Homo sapiens: one gene and its partner. The protein of the gene in region 1 interacts with the protein of each later gene in a biochemical or structural test. Each region holds a gene or a part of one and is shown on either strand. Other genes may lie near its edges.

The links.
Region 2: the proteins of RLF (region 1) and RIT2 form a complex in vitro, tested with the Homo sapiens proteins (one study listed by BioGRID).

The regions. Positions count from the first base shown.
Region 1 is NC_000001.11:40,183,465-40,195,641, reverse strand, and holds part of RLF (zinc finger protein Rlf), read right to left. Parts: intron 6,588-12,177; coding exon 6,433-6,587; intron 4,871-6,432; coding exon 4,789-4,870; intron 11-4,788; coding exon 1-10. UniProt on the Homo sapiens protein: May be involved in transcriptional regulation.
Region 2 is NC_000018.10:43,102,983-43,115,159, forward strand, and holds part of RIT2 (GTP-binding protein Rit2), read right to left. Parts: intron 1-12,177.

The DNA of each region.
Region 1 (12,177 bases):
CATGTGACTCCTAGAACAAGAACAGCACACCCAGAAAATAAGTTAACAATATAAAAATTAGTTTTGCCTTTTCAACATATCTGATACACCTAGGAATTGAAAGAACCTATTTGGATTTCCTGAAAATAAGTAACCAAAAAAGACTATACTCAAAGCCTTGTGAAATTCTGTTGCTGTCTTTTTTTTTTTTTTAAAGACAGAATCTTACTCTGTCACCCAGACTGGAGTGCAGTGGCGCGATCTCAGCTCACTGCAACCTCCAACCCCTGGGTTCAAGCAATTATCCTGCCTCAGCCTCCTGAGTAGCTGGAATTACAGGCGTCTGTCACCGCGCCCAGCTAATTTTTGTATTTTTAGTAGAGACAGGGTTTCACCATCTTGGCCAGGCTGGTCTTGAACTCCTGACCTCGTGATCCACCCGCCTCGGCCTCCCAAAGTGCTGGGATTATAGGTGTTGAGCCATCGCGTCCAGCCTCTGTTGCTGTTTTTAGAAAAAAACTAGGATGGGGCCAGGCACAGTGGCTCATGCCTGTGATCTCAGCACTTTGGGAGGCTGAGACGGGTGGACCATCTGAGGTCAGGAGTTCAAGACCAGCGTGGCCAAAATGACAAAACTCTGTCTCTACCAAAAATACAAAAAATTAGCCGGGCGTGGTGGCACCCACCTATAGTTCCAGCTACTCGGGAGGCTGAGGCAGGAGAATCACTTGAGCCTGGGAGGCAGAGGTTGCAGTGAGCCATGATTGTGCCACTGCGCTCCAGCCTGGGTGACAGAACAAGACTCCGTCTCATAAATAAATAAATAAATAAATAAATAAATAAATAAATAAATAACTAGGATGTTTTCACTAAGTAAAAGAGTGCCTTTAAAACGTTTTCCTGAATTCCTCCCTGGTAAAATTATCACAATTCAAGTTAGGTCCTTGCATTACTGTTGGATATTTGGAGTGCCCTACTATTAGGATCACTCATGTTACTAGCAGACTCTGAAGACTTGAATGATAGCCCTGGTGGAGGCTGATTTATTTTTTTTGTTTTGTTGGTTTTTTTTTTTTGGAGATGGAGTTTTGCTCTTGTTGGTTCAAGCGATTCTCCTGCCTCAATCTCCCAAGTAGCTGGGATTACAGGCGCCTGCCACCACGCCTGGCTAATTTTTGTATTTTTAGTAGAGACGGGGTTTTGCCACGTTGGTCCTGGCTGGTCTCGAACTCCTGACCTCAGGTGATCCACCTGCCTCAGCCTCCCAAAGTGTTGAGATTAAAGGCATGAGCCACTGTGCCCATTTAATTATTTGAAAGCCATTGGTGCCGCTTTCTTTTAAAGAATTCTGCAGTATTCACACAGGCTGCCTGTTCCTCTAACAGGAATTACAGGAGTATTACTTAGTGACACAAATCATTATATAATTGTTTAAATTCGTCTAAAAAATTGCTATTTAAATGACAGGTGGCTCTATATAAAATGTCCTGAAAAGTCTATTAACTCAGCAAACAAAATGTATTTACCAATAGTTTGTTCATTAAAGTTCTTATATTCAAGGGTGAGGGAAAAGGAGTCAGAAATGTAATTCAGTATAAATGATTACGTATATGTTTCACTGTCCTCTATTACTACTGAGTATTATTGATTATGGTGAGCTTGTTCCCATGTTCTAAAATTCTAATTTGTTTCCCTTATTTTAAACTCCTGAAATTCTCTAGGAACATAAGCTTCCATTTACGTCAACATTTCTTTGGAAAATATAAGCCAAAAATGTTCACAGGCATAAGAATATAGTTTAGTATTCACTCAAGTGAAAACTACAAGATATAAAGTCTCCCCCATCCCTTAACCTTCATGTTAAAATAGGCTTTTACTACACATATACACCCACCCACACACCCACCCAATATGTTGCATTATTTTCCACTGAGAAAGGACTTAAAATATGGAATTGATACAGAAAGTAATATTTCTAATTATTAGTTCACCAATAGCAATATTTAACAAATGCTGCAATTTTGCTTTAACAGCTTGACTTGTCCTCAGGCTTCTTTCTTCTTAACTTAGAATGACTCGCGTTTACTTTGGAGTGAGGAGAAAAAGTCCATGTGAAAAGTTAAAAATTTGAGGTGTCAGGTTTATCATATTTATAATGTCTAACTGACCTGTACCATTACACTTTAGCAGAAAATACTACCACCCACCATGATATGCAGCAACTGAAATAAAAACCACAGTTTGAGTTTCTTTTTAAAAGTTCTCTACTTTCTCATTTGTTAAAGTTCAAAATACAGTTTACTCAGAATAAGAATGGTATGTAATCCTTTGTTACCAATAGACATCTAATATAGCAAAGTTATTTTTTAAAAATAATGTTAAATCTATAAAACTACAAAAACTATGGTAGCATTTCAAGAATAATTTTAAAACTTCAATTTGTTTCTTTTTAAGGTGGAAATATCCTAGCCCAGTTCTTGAAATCTACAATACAGAAATAATAGCACAAGATGCTCTTTTTTTTTTTTTTTTTTTGCTAAGACCACTCTGCCGCCCTTTTCAAGATGTTCACTCTTGCACCATTTACAGTAAATAGCAAGACATTGGTCAATTAAAGGCACAACCACAAAACAGAATTCTAGGTGATCATCAAAACAGGAGATCTACATATGCAATCTTAGATGTATGTCCATGATTATTATGTAAAAAACCAAGTTGCAGAAAATAGGCTGTCATTTTTCATTAAAAAATCATTTGCAGAGTGTATATTTTTATGTCCATAGGAAAAAAGTTACTCAGCTGTAAATAGTAATTGAGAAATATTCTACCTGCAGCCTGCTCTGATAAAAACTATTCTCTTACCAAAAGTATCCTTAATACCATTTGCTGCCTTGTCCATTTATAATATAAAATAAGAAAACTTAAGGGCTTTTTATCTTTTGGATTTCAACAGGGATCATGTCTTAACATTTATTTGTACCCCTACTACATTTATTTACTGAACACATGTTAAAAAATATATCCTACACATCTGATAAACCTGAAAAAGCTTATGCAAGTGGAAAAAGAGGCAACTATTTTATTCAAGCAAGCTAAGAAAATAATAAAGAAATATGAGAGATTTCCCTCTAAAAAGGATAGAGGTTGAGTGTCCCTAATCCAAAAATCTGAAATCCAAAATGTTCCTCAAATCCAAAACTTTGTAAGCATCAACACGATACTCAAAAGAAATGCTCACTGGAGCATTTCGGATTTTCAGATTAGGGATGCTGAACTACTAAGTGTAATGCAAATATTCCAAAATCCAAACTACTCCTAAGCATTTGAGATATGGGATACTCAAACAGTATTAATATAGTAGTAATAGTCCTAATTAGGATTTGCCCTTCTAGGATGCCATATGCCAGAACAAAACGACTGGCAGGCTTCAGAACACAGAGTGACAAAAATCAAAGTGCTACGCATGAAAGATGATTTTAGCAGCTGTACGGATATGTGAGATATTAGGACTGCATTACAGGGCTTTAAATAGGCCAAGAACATGACAAAGAATCCTCTTCTCACTAAAGAGAACATTATATCATTTCATTTTGGGTTATGTATTCCAGAGGAAAGAAATGTTCAGATAATGAAGTGTGTCTGTTAATATGCATGTCTTTATTTGTGCCTCCATGAAACAGGTCTAAGCTGTGTCCTCAAGGAAGTAGTTAGCAAAGTAAGCTCAGGGTTTGAAATCTGTGTGTAACTTTGTCCAAGCTAATTAACCTCTCTTCACCTGTCTCCCCATTTGTAAATGGAGATTCAAATAATTCTCACACTATAAGGTTTGTAATTTGATTAGAAGATATAAAACAAGTAAAATGTAGTGTAAAGCAGTGATTGGTACATAATTAGTGATCAATAAATGAATGACTGCATGCATTTATTTTTAGAGACGAGTCCTATTATTTTAGGGATGAGCCCTGTCACCCAGGCTGGAGTGCAGTGGTGTGATCATATCTCACTGCAGCCTCGGACTCTTGGGCTTAAGAGATTCTCTTGCCTCAGCCTCCTGAGTAGCTGGGACTATAGGTATGTACCACCATGCCCGGTCTATTATTTATTATGTCTTTTTTTTTTTTTTCCGAGACAGAGTCTCACTCTGTTGCTCAGGCTGGAGTGCAGTGGTGCGATCTTGGCTCACTGCAACCTCTGCCTTCTGGGTTCAAGCGATTATCCTGCCTGAGCCTCCCAAGTAACTGGGATTACAGGTGTCCGCCACCATGCCCGGCTAATATTTGTATTTTTAGTAGAGACAGGGTTTCGGCATGTTGGCCAAGCTGGTCTCGAACTCCTGACCTCAGGTGATCCACTTGCCTTGGCCTCACAAAGTGTTGGGATTACAGCCGTGAGCTACTACACCCAGCCAGGTACAATTCTTAAAGTGTTAGGAAGAAAAAGGTGAACCTTAGATGTAATGAAATAGTGTTTTGTATATTGAAGGTTACCAATAAGTATGCTATGAAGGATCCAAATACTGTTACTTTATAATCATGTATGATTTTGATAGCTTTATGCTGTCTAAACTTTATGTTTGAATAATGAAACTTTTTTGTTGATTTCTAACTATGTAGAGGCAAACAAAACCAAATTTAAAAAACCCATTTTTAATACATCCCCTTCATGTGAAGGGCCTTTTTATCATTTCATGACCTAATATCAATATATAATAAACTTGTTTTTGTTCTAAGGTTCCAATTTTAGTTTGCTGGGAGTAATTAATTAGGTGTCTTGGATACAGAAAACTTTTCTGAGTTAAAATCAACTCACCTGTAGAGACTGAAGGAATGGTAGCCAGACTTCACATGGCAGTTCACTTTCAGACACTGAAAGCAGTAATTCGAAACAACTCCTACAATAAAAATGAGTAAGTATATAAAGGTGGTTATAGTAATAATTAAGTAGAGTATGACAGCAATACTAAAAATCTATTTTACATTTGTTTAGGCTATTTTAAATGTTTTTACTCTTCAAAATTTGCTTCAGAGTTGTTATATTGACTGTTCAATTTAAAAAGGAGGAAAAAAAGAAAGACCACAAGGCTTTATATTTACATTGTTGCTTTAGTACATTTGGTAAGAATATAATAAGCTCTTTAGAAATCACATTCCAAGCAGTTTTATTTTGTTTATTTGGGTGTGAAGAGGCACCCATATAGGACAATTCTAATTCCAGTAGACAAAAATGGGAGCTCATACTACTGTCAATTCAGCTGATAAAATGATAAATGATAAATATATGTAACTGTTATCTATAGGTTTCTGTCACTTGCAGAGGAAGCAGGAAGACTGGCAAAGTCGTTTCTTTACCTGTAAAAAAAACCAAGCAAAAGAGTTTCCTTTTTCTGACTATTATCCAGAAGACACAGAAAAGAAATAACAGGAAGATTTTTTTGAAAAAAGAAATGCACTACAACTTGAATAATGAGCAACTCAAAATACCAATGAATCAACATCTCTCTAAAACCCTACAGAATAATCCTTTACCCCTTAGGGATTACAATAGGTAAAACAGAAACTAGGACTTGGTAGAAGGAAAAATATGATCATAAAACCAGGAATGCTGGTCTTCCATAAAGGGCCACTGGAAAATAGGAAGGAAAACAGGTGAGGCTAGAAAAAAAATAAAATAAACCATCTAGACTAGAAGTCATCTCACTAAACAATCTGTAAGTTGAACAAGGTGATGCCCAGCTAAAACTGATTGGCTGTTGTATCTTTTCAATTTGCAGATGAAAATTACAATAAAGGTGTAATTTTGTCTGCTACTATGCAGCTAAATATTAAAATAACAGCTAAATCACGTTCTTTTTTTTTTGTTGTTGAGACAGTCTCCACTCCACCACCCAGGCTGGAGTGCAGTGGCGCCATCTTGGCTCACTGCAACCTCCACCTCCCAGGTTCAAGCGATTCTCGTGCCTCAGCCTCTTCCCAAAGTGCTGGGATTACAGGCGTGCGCCACCATGCCCGCGCTAAATCATGATCTCTTTCTTAGGATGGTAATCTTATACTGTACCCTGATATTTTTTGCTAATAAAATTATTCTTAGTTCAAATATAATCAAATTGCAGAATTTCATGTTGTTTTTGCCAAGATGTTCTTCAAGGACTACCAGTTTCCAGGTATTCTGTCATTTAAATCAATCTATACCTAAGGGATAGAAATATATCATTCTCAGATTCCAAGCCTGAATAGGAAAAGAGACTCTAGAGGCAAGTTAAAGATGATGTTGCTTGGCTGGAGCTTCACTTGGACTATATCTCCTGGGAACGTGAGTAGGAAGGAAATTTCATTCAATGGTATGACTCTAATGGTGCTCTGAAGAATAAATGTGATGCCACTGTAAAGAGAAACCAGGCAAACAACACGACCAATGGTACTCAATTTTAAGAGTGATTTAAGTTCTCAAACTTACAGTACTAATCTGCCAAGCACTAAGAGGACATCTTCACATTCAGTAGTTAAGTATGGACGTGCACTGGCAAAGCTTTGGATGGCAAGTCGATATACCTCCAGAAGATACACAATATGTTCTGATGCATTCTTGTTGCTTGCATATTGCAATAAGGTCTACAAAATAAAATTAAAAATTATTTACAAATAAAAATAATGAAACAGATTGTCTTTGTCCTCAAACACACCACATAGCTCTCCCATTTTTTTTCTAACAGATGCATATACCTTTTATTTGCCTTTTAAGGCTCTGGTTTGTTTAGAAGCTTCTATTTTCATCACTTAATGAATGATTTCTGCTGAGTTAAAGAAATGGCAGAACTACTCTTTTGATGTCAGAATAATTCTAAGAGTAGAGCCATAAAATGTCTAGTTGTTCTCACTATAGGTCTGGAGTTGCCATCTCTATAATTCAATAATGAGTTTTCAACCATGTGCCAAGCACTGGGTACATAAGAATAAGACTATGATCCCTGCCTTCTACAACAAGAGATGAATTATTCCTGAATATGACTCTCAGTTCTACAGCACCATAAAATCCTTTTTTTTTTTTCTGGACACATGGAATTGATTAGGCTTCCAAGGGTTAATTTATGCTAACTAATTTCTAAAAGGTTAATGTTATATTGATATTTTTATTTTTCACTAGCCCTGTATCCTCAACAAAATATATATTTATTTTTTATAAAGTTTATGAAGAAAATTACCATATAGGCCAAATGCCAGTTTATTTGGTTACAATGGGGGGAATAGTCCTCTTACCACACAGGGTACCCTATTCCTCATACTGTGGCATCTGAGAAGTTATCTGGTGAGTATTGAATCTAAACCAAAAGAAAATGAAACCACAATAAAGCCTGATAAATTATATGTGTCCTATCACTAAAAATTTGTCCAAATGATGGTGGAAAGCTGGCTTATGTTCTCCCTGGACAGTGTTGAAAAATCACTGCCAAATTCATGTTTGGGGACTCTCCTTCTGAGTTCCATGGAGTTGTTTTCTCTCTTGTTCATATATATCTTCCTTCTGACAACTGATTAGGTTTTGCCTATTCTTAATTGGTATATCTAGTTAAGACGTGAAGTATGTAGTACAGTCTAACATAAGCAGGATACAGCCTTCTCCCTGGAATACACATTCTGTCTGACTGGGCTAGGGAGTTCCTAATAGGCTTTTGGTTGGGGATACTTCTATAGGCAAGTCTTATTTTCAGAGGATAGCTTTAACATGAGTGAAATACATCTTATCTGAATTCATTACCCTAGAATAATGTCTTCAAACATTCCTAACTTCCTGTCTTTGATTTTTCTGCCTAAACAACTACAAATAACTACAATAGTAGCGCAGGATTCTGCTGGATTTTCTGCAGCTTTAGTTTCCACACAAATGGTCCCTGTATGAGTTCTGGTAACTGACTGTTAGCATCATCTTGATTACTTTAACATTTAAAAAAAGAGAGAGAGAGAAACAACTTACAAGGAAATATACCATAGACCATTATACCATATACAGTAAAAGTTCCCTTAACTAATATATTGCATTATCTGATCTTTGCATACCTGAATCATTACAGTCAGTTGAGCTATTTTTAGTATACCGACCTACTCAATTAAGTATCTTGCTACTTGGTCACAGTCACTTTAGATAAATGCCCTTCTGTAATTTCAGAAAAGCAACATGTCACCACTTAATCAAATCCCTAATTTTAATAAAATAAAAAAACTGAGTAACATTATAAAACTGACCCCTAAGCAATCCTGCTTCCCAGCTGAATTAGTAGAGAAAGAATGCAGAATGGGTGTCTGTTACATAACTAAGATTTCACCTAATTTATTAAAATCAGCCAGGTGCTGTGGCTCACGCCTGTAATCCCAGCACTTTGGGAGGCCGAGGCGGACGGATCACAAAGTCAAGAGATCGAGACCATCCTGGCCAACATGGGTGAAACCCCGTCTCTAAAAATACAAATATTAGAGATGGGCGTGGTGGCGCGCGCTTGTAGTCCCAGCTGCTCAGGAGGCTGAGGCAGGAAAATCGCTTGAACCTGGGAGGCGGAGGTTGCAGTGAGCCAAGATTGCGCCACTGCACTCCAGCCTGGCGACACAGCAAGACTGTCTCAAAAAAAAAAACCAAAAAACAAAAAACAAAGAAATTTATTAAAATCTATGTTACAAAAAAATTCTGGTTTAGGTCAGTAAGTTACTTACTGTCTGCATTGGCTAATCTAAGAATTAAGGAGTTTCAAAAATTTATATTTAGTGCCAGATTTATGTTCCTTAAAGTCAGACATTATGTCTCATCAATCCTTATAGGCCTACCACTCCTCTACCCACTTCCACCCCCACAGGACATTCTCAAGTCTCACTAAATGTCTGCTGAATACATTCACCATTTTATTCATTTGACAAATATTTTTCAATAGATTATCACACATAAAGTGCTAGATGCAGTGGGGGCGGGCAGACATGTGGCCTATCCTCACAGAGCTTTCAGAATGAGTCAATACAACATGATGGCTGAAACCACACATGCAAATTAACCAACTGCTAACTAAAGTATGCAAAGAGAAGGACAGAGTGCATACAGATGGGGTTAGTCTTTCCACAATCCACCTGTCCACTTAGAACGCTCTTGCCACCAATCTAATAGCTTCTGACAGACATTCCACCAGGACTTCTGTAAGCTACACAATTTCAAAGATTCAATACTCTTGAGGAACTTCCAGTTTGCTCTATACTAATTTATACTTTTTATATTCCTAAATCTTTACCCCCTCATGTGTTGGTTCAAATTAAGTAGTGAGATCTCTTATACCCACTATAAGCATACTCTGGGTATGTGAAGAATGGCTGGAATAATCAATCTTCTTCATTATCACTTTTTTTTTAAATTGAGATAGAGTCTCATTCTATCACTGCTGGTGATCCTCCCACTTCAGCCTCCCAAGTAGCTGGGACTACAGGCATGAACCACTGTGGCTAGCCAGGCATTTTCTTTCTTTCTTTTTGTTTTTTTAATCAAGTCTCACTCTGTCACCCAGGTTGGGGTGCGGTGGTGAAATCTCGGCTCACTGCAACCTTCACCTCCCAGATTCAAGTGGATCCTTTCACCTCAGGCTCCTGAGTAGCTGGGATTACAACTGTGCGCCACCAGGCTCGGTTAATTTTCCTGTTTTTAGTAGAGATGGGGTTTCACCATTTTGGCCAGGCTGGTCTCGAACTCTTGACCTCAAGTGATCCGCCTGCCTTGGCCTCCCCAAGTGCTGGGATTACAGGCAAAAGCCACCTCGCATCCAGCCTTTGTGGTTTTTTTTTTTTTTTTTTTTTTGCTTTTTTTTTTTTTTTGAGACAGTCTCACTCTGTCAGCCCAGGCTAGAGTGCAGTGGCACGATCTTGGCTCACTGCAAGCTCCACCTCCCAGGTTCACGCCATTCTCCTGCCTCAGCCTCCCAAGTAGCTGGGACTACAGGCACCCGCCACCATGCCCGGCTAATTTTTTTTTTTTTTTTTTTTTTGTATTTTTAGTAGAGACGGGGTTTCACCGTGTTAGCCAGGATGGTCTCGAGCTCCTGACCTCGTGACCTGCCCGCCTCGGCCTCCCAAAGTGCTGGGAGCCACTGCGCCCGGCTTTTTTTTTTTTTTTTTTTTTTTTTTAATGCAAGATTAGGTTGAAAGGATTACAGCCATCCAAATAACAGGATGGCTGTAATCCTTTCAACCTAATCTTGCATTTAAAAAACTGGACTAGGCAAGGTGGCTCACGCCTGTAATCCCAGCACTTTGGGAGGCCGAGGCAGGTGTATCACTTGAGGTCAGGAGTTCAGACCAGCCTGGCCAACATGGTGAAACCCTGTCTCTACTAAAAATACAGAAAGTAGCCGGGCGTGGTGGCGCATGCCTCTAGTCCCAGCTACTTGGGAGGCTGAGGCTGGAGAATTGCTTGAACCCGGCTAGAGTTCAGTGGTTCAATCACAGCTCACTATAACCTCAAACTCCTAGGCTCAAGTGATCCTCTCTCCCACCCACCTCAGCCTCCTGAGTAGCTAGGACTGGAGAAGTGCATCACCATGCCCAGCCAATTAAAAAAAACTTTTTTTTTGTAGGGACAGGGTCTCTTTGCTGCCCAGTCTGGTCTCAAATTCCTGGGCCTCAAGTGGTCCTCCCACCTTGGCCTCTCAAAGTGCTGGGATTACAGGTGTGAGCCACTGTACCCAGCCACGGTCTCTTATTTTTCTTTAGGAACTGAAATCACAACTGAAGAGAAAAGGGGCAATAAATGATAAAGATGACCTCCTAAAGTTCATTCTACAGTGACCAAATTAATGACCTCTCTCTTTTGTTTCAGTAAACTCATTCCACAAATACCTACTATTTTGTACTGTGCTGGGAAGTAAGGATGGAGACTCTATTCCTGCCCTTGAAAGGCTATGATATATACTAAGGGGTCAGATATATAAGTAAAAAATTAGCTCACTTACGCACCATATTTGACTATTCGGTGCTCTCATTCACATCCCAAGCAGATTACCCTCAAATTACTCTCTCAAGTCCTTGCTATATACCTCAACTGCCTATTACATATTTCCATCTGGATGTCCTATTCAAATCTCAAACTCAGCATGTCCAAAACCAAACATCTTCCCCAGCAAATATGCTCTTCCTCCTATGTTCCATCTGCCTCCTTTCAGGAGCCAGAGCTAAAAAACTATCTTTGAAACCACCACACCAAAGTTTGTTGATTCTATCTCAGAAATATCTTTGTCTCCTGTCCCTATGCTTTATCTCTGTAGCCATTCACCTAAACCAGGCCCCCAATATCCCTCATCTAGACTGCTACATTGGTTCACTTCTCTAGGCTAAATAACCTCTAGTTCTGTATATGTGTTATAATCACGTATGTCTGTACATTGAAAAAATTAATGTCCAAGGGGAAAATGACTAGAAGAAATTAACTAAAATGCTTACATGGTTAGCACTGAGGTAGCAGGAATATGAGCAATTTTTGTCATCTTTATACTTTTCTAAACTTCTCAAATTTTCTTTAATAAGCATGACTACATTTTCAAAGCAAAAAAAATCTCCCCTCACCCTTAATTCTCTCTACATTTCTCACTACATGGTTTCAAGGAGCTTGGCAGCATTCTGACTATTCCTTGAAACTATCAAGAAAGGAGAATTTCTTTCAGGATGGTCACATTTAATGTTTAAAGAATACATTCCAATTTAAATTTCACATAGTTCAGGATTAACTTTCCTAATGAAATAATTATATTTACTGAGCACATAGTATGGGTTAGGCACTTCCTAAGAGCTTTACGGCCACTAAACTTATTTAATATGCACAACTCCATGAGCTAGGAGTTATTATCAGCCCATTTCAAAAATGAGGAGCCACTGTCAAGTTGTCTTTTGGGAATTTTTTTTTTTTTTAAATGAGGAAACATGAGAGATTGAATTATTTGGGCAAAGTCATCCAATAGGTGTTAGATTCAGGATTTGAACTAGAGCCATCTGGCTCCTCAGCCCACACTTAATCACCACGCTTTCTTTATGCCTTTTCACAATTCAACTATTTTAAGTGTGCTTTTAAATTCTGCCCCCTCACCCCCAGCATCAGCTTTAATATTTTGTAGCAAGTTGTGTCATGGTCATCATTTGGCCTTCTTCCCGAGTTTACAACATCTAACTTCCATTCTAAAGTGAATGC
Region 2 (12,177 bases), on another chromosome or scaffold:
TGTGACTATCTGCCATGTTTTGATGGACAAACTTCCTGTGGTCTATTTGTGTTTCTGAACATCCTAAACACTGTGTGGGCTTATTGGCCTTCAAATCCATGGTCACCAAAGATTGTTAATGCTGGCCTGAGTCTAGGTTGTTCCCAAGCCACACCCTTACCCTATACTTACATACCTGCCACTTCTCTCTTGGTACCAGTTTCTTTCTCTATTATTCATGGCTCTATTGTGAACTTTTAGAATATTGCTTAGTTTTATTTTACTACATATGCCCGGTGTCTTACTTTCTGAATTTCCTCAAAGATGAAAAAGGGTATTATGTTTATAAATATTTTTGAAGATTTACTCCCATAAGTATCACGGGAAAAGAAAGACAATATAAAATCTATTTCCTACTCCTCATGAATTTGCTATTAAAACAGGAAAATTAAACATAAAGAGATAACAAATTAAATACAAATTCAAACTTTAAATAACATCTTAAGACCACAAGCCAGATGCTCAAAGAAACTGTGTAACTGTAAATAGTTATTGGAAGGGATAATAATCAGAAAGAATTTTAAGTGTTATAAAGAAGAGAGAAGATATTAGACTGGAGTAGACAGGGAAGATATTAAAGAGCAAGAAGTATTTGTGCAGAATCTGAAAGGACAGATCAAATCGAACAAATTGAGGGAAAGGAGGAGAGAGCTTATTTTAAAATAACTTCGTGATTGGGGAACAAAAAGTAAAATAGTTTGTCTAGAAGGTAGATGACAGTGATGGAAGGACATGTCTGGGTCTATTTCAATTCTAAAATGACGGTGTTGGAATAAAGTAAGATATCTTAGTTGTTTGGGGAGGAGAAGAATCAAAATGGTATTTCAGGACGGTGGTATGAAGTGGTATGAAGAGCAGGTAAGAGTGGGATATGGGGGTTTAAAAGATGATAGAAGAAATCCCACTACTGGGTATTTATCTAAAGAAAAAGGAGTCAGTATATCAAAAGGATACCTACACCCCCAAGTTTATTGCACCACTACGCACAGTAACTGAGATATGGAATACAACGGAACGCCCATCAACAGATAAATGGATAAAGGAAATGTCATATACATACACAATGGAATGCTATTCAGACATGAAAAAAGAATGAAATCCTGTCATTTGCCACAACATGGATGAACCTGGAGGACATAACGTTAAGTAAACTAAATCAGGCATAGAAAGATAAATACCAAAAGTTCTCACTTGTAAATGAAATCTAAAAAAGTTGATATAGAAGTAGAACTGTGGTCATTAGAGGCTGGGAAGAGAGAGGGAGGGTAGGATGGGGAGAGTTTGGTTAACAGATACAAAATCACAGCTAGATGGGAGGAATGAGTTCTGGTGTTCCACAGCGCTATATAATGAATGTGGTTGGCTATAATTTATTGTGTATTTTCAAAAAGTTAGAGAGGATTTTAATGTTCACAGCACAAAGAAGTAATAAATGTTTGAGGTGATAGATATCCTAATTACCATTATTTGATCATTATACATTGTATACACCTATGAAAATAACACATAAATACATATGATTATTACTTGTCAACTAAAAATGAAAGGGAAAAAAAAAGATGCTGAGGTATTCCAGACTTCTGTTACTCAGAATTTGCCAATATAAAATCCCTAATATTTTTCCACTGATTTCAGTCCTAAGATAATTATATTGGAATAAAGTATGAAATATTTCTAAACAGTAAATAAATAAATAAATAAATATAATAGGCAGGAACCAATTAGCTGAAGTTTTTACAATTTCAAATAAAAGATGTGCCCTTTTGCTACCAAATAAAGAGCCTGATTTCTTCAATTAAACAAAAATCTGTATCCATGTAGCTTATTATTAGCTTTTCCTGCAACCATTAAATATGACTCTTTCCCTTTAAATGTTCAGTGTTGCTACTATGGAGAATGGAAGACATGTCATATTACTCAAAATTTATTAAAACAATACACAAATTGGAAAAATTAATTTCAGTCTGGATTCAAGCAGAGGCATGCTCTGTTAAAAGCCATAGCCCCTCTAATCAGGCCCTTTGTGGGCTATTGTAGCAGGCAATTGTCCTCCAGTCCTTTCTCTAACAGGCAGTGTGCTGTGTGTGTGTGTGTGTGTGTGTGTGTGTGTTTGTGTGTGTGTGTGTGTGTTTGTGTGTGGTATGGGTCAATTAGGATGAATAAAGGGATTGTTTACTAAGGTAACTAGTAAACTACTTTTATTACTGTCACTGAAATTACCACTCAGGAGACCAAAGCAGAAACTAATCAATATAAGGATCTAGAGAGCAAGAACAAGAATAGAGCAGGTGCATATACAATGGCAGTTTTACAATATTCAACCCAAATTGTATTTTCCTAGGACCTATCTGAAATATGTGTCACTACTCTTCCCTATGTTACAGAGGTAAACTGCCTTAGGTGGAGGCATGGAAGGAAGGAACAAAAAAAGGAAGGGAGGAAGGGAGGAAGAGAGGAAGGGAGGAAGGGAGGAAGAAAGGGAGGGAGGGAGGGAGGGAATGAGCAGTTTTAATGAAGGTGTAATATTGGGCAATATAATCTATAGTTTTTATTTAGTATTTTCCAATGTCATCTACCCAGCAATTCTCTGAGGATATTTTAATTAAAGCCCTTAATGAGGAAAAGGGAGACTCAAAGAGCTTAAGTGACCTGTGCAACGTCAAGTGTTGTTAAGGGTAAATAAATAAAAACAAAGCTATCCATTTACGTTATAAACTTTGTCCCACAGTTTGTGCCAGGCTATGTAATTAATATTCTGAGTATGAACCGTTACAGTAGTTATTATTGTCATCCCCATTTTACAGATGAGAAAAGACAAATATGGATTTCCTGGGTTACCCAAACCCCCAGTTCACATTATTCTGTCATCACTTCTATGGTAGGGCTTCATTCTACAGATTGAAGGTTGATCAAAATAATATATGGTAACGAGCACAGTGGACAGTGGTTAAGGGCCTCAGCTCTGGCAGTGGTTGAGTCCTGCATAGTCACCTCAGGCTCTGGGTTCCTGAGTGAATTACTCACCATCTTCAAGCTTTATTGTTCTCATCTATTAATTAGAGATATTAACCACACCCACACTTCTGGGTTTAGTGAGACTTAATAAATTAACATATTTAGTGCATTTTGAACAGGGTCAGGTATATGCAAAACTCAGAAGTGTTCACTTTTATTTTGCCATTCATTGCAGGAAGAAATTGAAAGAATAATAGTTTGGACAAAACAAGAAACATTCCTCTTTTGTGAATGCACGCAGATTTATGAACACAAACACACACTTTATTGCTCATTTTAAAGCATATTAAGAGGAAATGTGAACTGGTAAAGTGTCTAAGGACTTCTGATTCATTCAATAAGTGACTACCCAAACATTGATTTTCACATATACAAGAAATCTTCTGATAAAGAACTTCCCTCATCCACCACCACCACAACTTCTCTAACTATAATTGTTAAAAATCTTTATTCGGCGTTCCATTGTAAGACCACAAATTATCTACACTATCTCATTTCAGTTCAATTAAAGATTTTTTCCTGGGACTGCAAATATAGTTTTCTCTCTGATTTCCTTTTCAATGCAACATCTCCAGGGAGGCCCCAGTCCCCCACTCCCCCTTCGGCTTTACATCCTTCATGCATACTTTAGGAAGAATCAGGTTTCTATCTGCCCAATACACATGGCAGTGGCAGGATGCTGAAATGCTTGGAGTATTTGGGGACCAGAACTATCAATACTCTCACGCTGAAGCTGTGGTGTTAGCTGAAGTAGAATTATAGTAGGCAGAAAGGGCAGAAATGATGGTCTGGCAGAGTGACTAGCAATGGCACTTAGCTGGTCCCTGCTGAGCAATGAGAAGGACAGGTAGCACTGTTTGGTCAGGGTCACCAGAAAGCTGGTATTTATTTATGAGGAAAGCCCAAGTGATTGAGTAGATATCATTGATGGGCTTTGCAAATAGCCAGATTCATTGATAAAAGTGCACCTTCCATGTCTGTGAGCAGTACAGAGGACCACCGTCTGTCAATGTGTACAGTCGCAATCCCACCACACTGCAAACACACACACGCACAGAAATAATCGGTCATAGGCAGCAGGTTGATCTCCAGTGAGATTTTATGCTGGTTTATGGGAGGCAAAATGGCCTATTGGAAAAATTCATGCTCTAGAAAGTCAGGAGACTCTAGTCCCAACGCTACAGATGAACAGCTGAACAATGTATGGTAGGTCATTTTATCTTTCTAAGCCATAGTTCTCATTGCTTCCAAAATACCTCCCATGCATCTCTATCATTGCCTCACAAGTCTGTTTATACATCTTGTTTGTTACCCTGGTGGACAGGGCAGAGGCTGTGTCTAATTCTTGGTCATATCTGTGGGCTTTTCACAGGTCTAGGCGTGCACGCGTGCGTGCACGCATACACACACAAACACTCTTTTGTCAGTTTCTATTAATTATTCCAAAATGTATATGTTTAAAGAAAGTATGCTTCCCTAAGCAAATCAGCACCTAATTTCAAAAATCGGTATGGTTTACTCAGCACCCTGTTTACTTTCTTTGTTTGCATGATCCCAGGTTTCAATAAATTCCTATAATTACTGGGTTACTTGGTTTTCTCAAGTTGAAAGGAATTGTCACCTTCTCTCTATGTGGTTGAGGCCCCCAGGGGTCTCTGAATAGACAAGAACAAACCAGTCTTTGGCACCTCCATGCTAAATTGTTTAGTCAGAGCTCCTCATGCCACTCACTACCCCATCTAATAAGCGTAGCACTCTCCGTTGTTTGTGTAGAAAATTAAAAATATTAAAATATTTTCATATAGACGATTTTGTGTGATGTTTAAAATACATGCATGAAAATGTGGCCGGGTGCAGTGGCTCACGCCTGTAACCCCAGCCCTTTGGAAGTCCGAGGCGGGTGGATGACGAGGTCAGGAGATCGAGACCATCCTGGCTAACACGGTGATACCCCGTCTCTACTAAAAATACAAAAAAAAAAAAAAAAATTAACCGGGCATGGTGGCGGGTGACTGTAGTCCCAGTTATTCGGGGAGGCTGAGGCAGGATAATGGTGTGAACCCAGGAGGCAGAGCTTGCAGTGAGCCGAGATTGCACCAGTGCACTCCAGCCTGAGTGATAGAACGAGACTCCATCTCAAAAAAAAAAAAAATGCAGCTGAAGTTAGAACTCAGGTTCACTGTATCATGTCTTCAAAAAATAAAAACTTTCAGGTGAGAAAATAAAAATAATGTAAACATCGAACTTAGACATCCATATGTAGGCACATTAGGTTCATCATTTAATATCTATGTGCCTTGGGCCATATTACGTGTGTGTGTGTGTGTGTGTGTGTACCTCAGTTTTCTCACTTATAAAACGCAGACAGTAAAGCCTTCCTCACAAGATCAAGGCAGGGTGAGGGGTATAGTAAGGCAAGGGAATGTGACAGACCATCAGCCAGCAAAACACCAAAGCAAATGCGTGAACGTAAAGAGCTCAGCAACATGTGGGCTCATTGAGGGATTATTACATGCTCGTTCATCTCCAGTCATAGATGGGGCAGACATATCATATAGTACTCATGTAGAGCTGTAGAAACTCTCTTTCATCAATTTAAAATCTACAGAGTGCATATAATCTTGGAGATGTTGTCAATCAAAGCCTTTCGCCTGAATTCTGTTTTCAATCATTATTTGAGTGAGTAGATACCAATTTACTCTTTTACTGAGCCTTATTTAGACCTCTTGGCTAATGCTTCCTGACAGTATTGCAGTGAGTGATGGTCTGCAGTACAACTGAGGTGGTAACAATTAAGGGTGAGAACAGAAGGCCCTGGAATCTTAAAATCTTTTTGCTTTCCCCTTGTTTATTTTGTTTCTTTTGCCTTACAGTCCACAGGGTTAGGATAACGCATGGCCACGATGTGACAATTGTTGAGCTTTGTCAGACTCAAAGTTCTGCTAATGAAGTAAAATACAGAGGCTGTGGGACATGAATGATGCACTTGGTTGCTTGCCTTGATTTAATTCATCAGATAAAGGCTCAACTTCCTACCTGCTTTCCTAATTCACTGAGGTGGAAGGAATTGGTTGTGTGCTGCTTTCCGTTTACCTCAGAGATATTGTTACTGCTTTCTCTTTATAAAATCCTGCTACATGAAACTGAATTTGCAGAGGCAACAAACTGCACATGGCCGTGGGAGAGAATATGTTTGTTTATTTTAGAAATCAGTTTTTTCTTTACAAAGAATTCACAATGGAAACATTCTAATAAATTCTGAGTTCCCTAATCCTTTTTGGGTTTTCAGTTTATTTGTGTTGTGTAACTTTTTCACAGTTAACTGAAGCATCTATTGAGCAAATCTCAAAAGATATTTTTTCAACTACCACTTAGAGACACTAAATTATCAAGATGCTGCCATTAAAAATTATAAGCCTTCAGATCCCTTTGTGCCCCTGTATACACTGTTTATGTTCAATTCTTTCCCTTGGATCTCCCCATACTTTTCTTCTTCAGCATCAAAAAAATCCTCCTCATCCTTTAAGACATAATTTAAATACCATCTATGCTGTGATTTCTTCTCAACTTTCACATCTCTTATAGCCACCCCTTATACTGAGTTTCCAAAGCTCTTACATCAGAAGCCTAATATAAACTTATTGTTTTGTATTACACATTACAGCAAATTTTCCACCATGAGATGGTGCACTCCCAGAGGTCAGGAATCACCTGAAATCATAGTTGTGAATAACACTCCCTCCCTGCTCAATGACTTGCATAGTGTTTCATACATATTTCACATTTGAAGATGTATGTTGACAACATTTCACCAAATAATTCCAAGATGTGTCCTAGGGACCAGAGAAGGACATAAAGTTCTCATCTGACATTGGGAACCTTTTTCTGCTTTTCCCATACAATTTGATAGAAAAACAATTTAGATGTAGAAAGCCTGTGTTCATGTCCAGTCCTTATTTTCTGACTTTCCTACTAGACAAATCTCTTGATAGTTCTGTGCTTAGATACCTCTCCTACTTGCCTTCTTACTTTGTGATCAAATAAGATCATAATCAGAATAAGTAAAATGTTATTTTTACCCCAATTTTATGCGATAATATCTTATTTTGCAAAATATGATCATTATGAATCTTAAATTATTTAAATCTTAAAACATTATCATTATGTTAAGTGTATGCCTGTATACGAATATTTCCTTAACTCCATATATATATATACCCACTATGTACCCATAAAAATAAAAAAAATCAGTAAAATAAAAACCTACTAACTTAGAATAAATCCCAAATGCAGATATTTTCCAAAATACCTGGAAAATAAGATATTATTTTTATTAAATAAAATCTGTTGAATAAATTTGATTCTGAACTTGGAGAACCAGATGTGAAGCCAAGGAAGACAATATTTCATCATGCTCTGGCATTGAGGAACGGCCTTGCTGTTTCAAACCACAGTGACAAAGGTCAATATTTGAAACTGTTATAAGGATTGTTTAGGCTCCATAAAACTTTAAAACTGTAACCATGAGATTATTTTTATTTTTATTTTTTAGGGTGGGTGAGTGGCGGGCAGTGGAACAAAATGAGATAGAAGGCTAAAAGAAGATGCCTAAAAGATGCCTAACATACTGAACTTTATTGGATAATTTGTCTTTTTTGTTGTTTTCTTTTGGTTTTAGTTGTAATCACAGTTTGTAATATAAGTTTCTATTCTACTGTCATTTAATGTTATTTCACTGAATGTGTATGTGTGTATATATATGTGTGTTGTTTCTTAAGTAGTTTTCTCGTCATGAGTCTTATTTTTAAAATAAACTTTATTGTGTATATTTAAGGTATACAATATGATGTTGTGGGATACACATAGATAGTAAAATATTTACTATAGGAAAACAAATTAGCATATCCATCATTTCACATAGCTACTTTTTATAGGGGGTGGCAGTATCAGCAGCTAAAATCTACTAATTTATGCAGCACTAGCAACAATAGCCAAGATTTGGAAGTAACTTAAGTGTCCATCAACAGAAGAATGAATAAAATAAATGTGGTATATATACACAATGGAATACTATTCAGCTATATAAAAGAATGAGATCCAGTCATTTGCAACAGCATGCATGGAAATGGAGATCATTGTGTCAAGTGAAATAAGCCAGACACAGAAAGACAAACTTTGCATGGTCTCATTCATTTGTGGAAGTTAAAAATTAAAACAATTTAATTCATGGAGATAGTAGAATGATGGCTACCAGAGGCTGGAAAGGGTAGTAGGAAGAGGGAGTGGAGATGGTTAATGGGTACAAAATTGTGGTTAGATGGAATGAATAAGATCTAACATTTGATAGCACAACAGGGTCATTATCATCACAAATAAGTTATTGTACATTTTAAAATAACAAAAAAGTATAATGGAAGATTTATAACACAAATAAATGATGAATGTTTGAGGTGATGGATACACCATACCCTGATGTGATTATTATACACTGTATGCCTGTATCCAAATATCTCATGTACTCCATAAATATATACATGTATAAAATATATACACCTACTATGTACAAATAAACATAAAAAAATCTACTAATTTAGCATAAACCCCAAATAAAATATTATTACCTCTAGTCCTCATCCTATACATTAGATCTCTATACTTGTTCCTCCTAAATGTCTGCTACTTTGTATACATATCTGTTACTTTGTATGGTGCAGTTTTGATTCAGCTTACTCTGTGTAAAAATTGGGGAGTGATGGAAAAGCAGCTTCAATGGTGTCAGAAGGACTGGATTCTGGATCTGACTCTGCCACTGCTGTATAAATGACCTTTGCAGGTCTCTTCACCTCTCAATGCCTCAGTTTGGCCATTGTCCAAATAATTCTTGTGTATCCCTGTTTTCTCTGCAGTTAGTAACATTCTTGGACAATATTACATATAATTATAAAAATATAAATACAAATATTAATATTATATATTTATACAGAAGTATTATGCATAGTGTTCAATTAGGTTAAAGATTAAAGCGGCATAGATGTATAAATCAAAGTGATAGCCTAGATGGTTAAGATCTCTTCTAAATATAACATTCGAGACCTAGGAAATGCATTATCAATGGATCTGTTTTCTTCTTACTAGTGAGTGATGCAACTCTTTGTTCTTCTCAGAGCATTAAACATAATGTAGTAGAGTTAGATAAAACATCACAGAACTCTAAATTATTACCCCCATGACCAGGCACAAGTTATTTTTCTGACCTCTGTTTTTTCATCTGTGAAATAGAAATACCGACTCTGACTGTGGTTAGGACTGAGTATAAGCGTGAAATACATGTAGCCCATGCCTGCCATGCAATGGGGGCTTCATAAATGTTTACGTCCTTCATAGTAACTAGTATAGGACTGTGCATAATACGTGCTCAGTAAACTTTATTGATTACTTGTGGTTTAAAATTCCTCACATAAAGTACATTCATTAACTGACATATTTTAAATCTTGTGGGAATTCCTATTTCAGTAAAGTTGCAAATTCTTTTAAAAGTTTCTATTAAAAAATATTTTGGTAAAACATGGACAAAAACATTTCTCAGGCCAGGCACAATGGCTCATGCCTATAATCCCAGCACTTTGGGGGGCTGAGGCAGGAGCATTGCTTGAGGCCAGAAGTTTGAGACCAACCTGGGCAACATAGTGAGAGCCCATCTCTACAAAAAGAAAAATAAAAAAGAATAAATATTAATATACATAAAAAATCTCCAAGATTTTAAAAATTATAGTCACCATAAATTTAGTTTTTAATTCATGTTTAAGGCTGACTTGGACTTGACTCTCAGAATTGGAAACAGATGGTAGCTTGATGCATCTTCTTTAGTTTCTTCAGAAGAGCAGATCTCTTCTGGAAATCTCTTCACACAACCCAGGGTAATGGGGTTATACAATCCCTTCATATACCTCTGTTGATCTAAGTCTTTGATATGAAAAGTAGGTTTTAAAACGTATATTTTAGAGCCATGATCATGCCACTGCACCCCAGCCTAGGCTCAAATGAGATAAAATAAACCATGTATATTTTTAGCTCATTTGAAAGCAAATATTTTAACCTTCAATAGAAGGTTAATATTAAGAATCAGTGCTTGAATGTTTATATGCTGATGGAAGAACATCAGGTAAGTCACAGGGGAAAGTCCAAGGACCAGATGATTTTCTCACTGTGATTTCAAACATTTAGTCATAAGGACAGCATTTTCCAGGTGTGAAATTGTAGTATGAGAAATATTCTCTGGTGTAGTAGCCAAGGTTGCCATTTATATATAATCAATACAACTGAGCTGTTTATACTCCTTATCCTTATCTTTCTCTGAGAATGAGCTGGTCATTCCTGTCTTTTCATCTCACAGGAAAAGTTTTGTTCAAGTACTTAATTATGAATTGACTTCTATTGTACAAAGCAAAGATGAGAGCAAGCCAGGCCACTCTGTGGGCCATGTGTCACATTGAAAATCCATAGTCATTGGAACAGTAACAATGATCTGTCAGCACAAATAATACTTGGGAGAGATCAAAATAGAAGATAAAATATCACCACTATAATATCAGCAATATCACAAGAAAAGTGTGTTGCTGAAGGATGTTCCCGTCCAAAATCTCTTTTCTCCAAGTTTCATTTAGGTGGAATAAATTGAAGTAGGCTAAAAATCAGTCACTCTATCCCCACATCCCCCAAGCTCCTAAAAGCAAATACCTAACCAGCAAACAAAAGCAATACAGAGGCACATTATTGCGACAATTTCAGCATCTCCCTGACCTCACAAGCTGCTGGTGGCATTTAATGTGGATTGGTCTTTTGCCTGTTTTTTTTAAATCTGTTTTTCTCTCTTCTTCAGTATTTTATTCTCACATTGTTTATTTCTTTCTTCCTCACTGTATCTGACTGGATTCTTGTAAAGTATAACTTCATTTTATATAGATCATGTTGTCTCTATCCTTCCTCCATCCCTTCCTCCTTCCTTAAATCCTAACCTATTTTGATTCCTTCCTTCTCAAATCATTATATTTAGAGGAGAAAGCTTTTTAAAAATTCCTCATTTATACACAATTACAAAGCTTTTCTTTCATATTTTTGCCTCCCTAGAAGAGATGAATAATTTTTTTCACTTTGATATGCATTTTGCTACTGACCACATCCAGATGTACCTATTTCTTTTATTTTTTATGAGAATTCTCTTTTGTAGGGTGAGGAGAAGAGGTAGGGGTGCTGAATTTTATGTTTCTTACTATCTTTAACTTTGTTGTCCACTAAAGTCACAATCTCCTTCCTCTTCCTTTACTGTTCAGTTTTCCTATCCCTTGTGGACCCATCCACCAAAGTTGTTAGTTTTTTGGTTTCTTCTGCCGAAAATATTGTCTTCGTCTTTTAATTTTTTTGTCAACACTAAAACTACTGATTTGTTTTGATGCTTTTTGTCCATGCTAACTATAATATTTTTTCTACCTTTTAGAATTCCCAAAGATATATTCCCAGTGGAGATATTTAATATTTATATAAAAAGCTATATTTATTTATTTTCTAGTGATAGCCATAGCTCCGAGCTATCTAACATTTGATCAGCCAAAAAACTACTATGTATCTATTTTTTTAATTTTTTTATATTTGGCCTTTTAGGCTCCTCAAGAATCCCAACAACTGACACTTCCGTTCTTTATGTACCAAAAGAAATTTGCTATTCTTCATCTCTATTATCACCTCATCTTCATTTATTTGTGTAGCTTTCTCCTTTAATTGACCACAAAGTTTAGTTTGATCACCCTGCACAGGACTCACAATGAATATCATTCCATAAATCACTGCCACTTTCAAAAACCAACTTTCTTTTGGTATTCAAAGCCCACACACACCATGTCAGACTACAGATGAGGAAAAAGAACCTCCTAATGAAAGAAACAAACACAACAATCAACACCCATCATCCCGAGTATATGTCTGTGTTTGTAACTGTGTTTAATTGAATATTCATAGCACTTCTTTCTTTATGTGAAGATTTTTGAGACTAGGAGCACATTTTTCTCATACCATGACAATTTCATACTTATTTTTATTATTAAAAAAGACCTATACACTAAGAGCAAA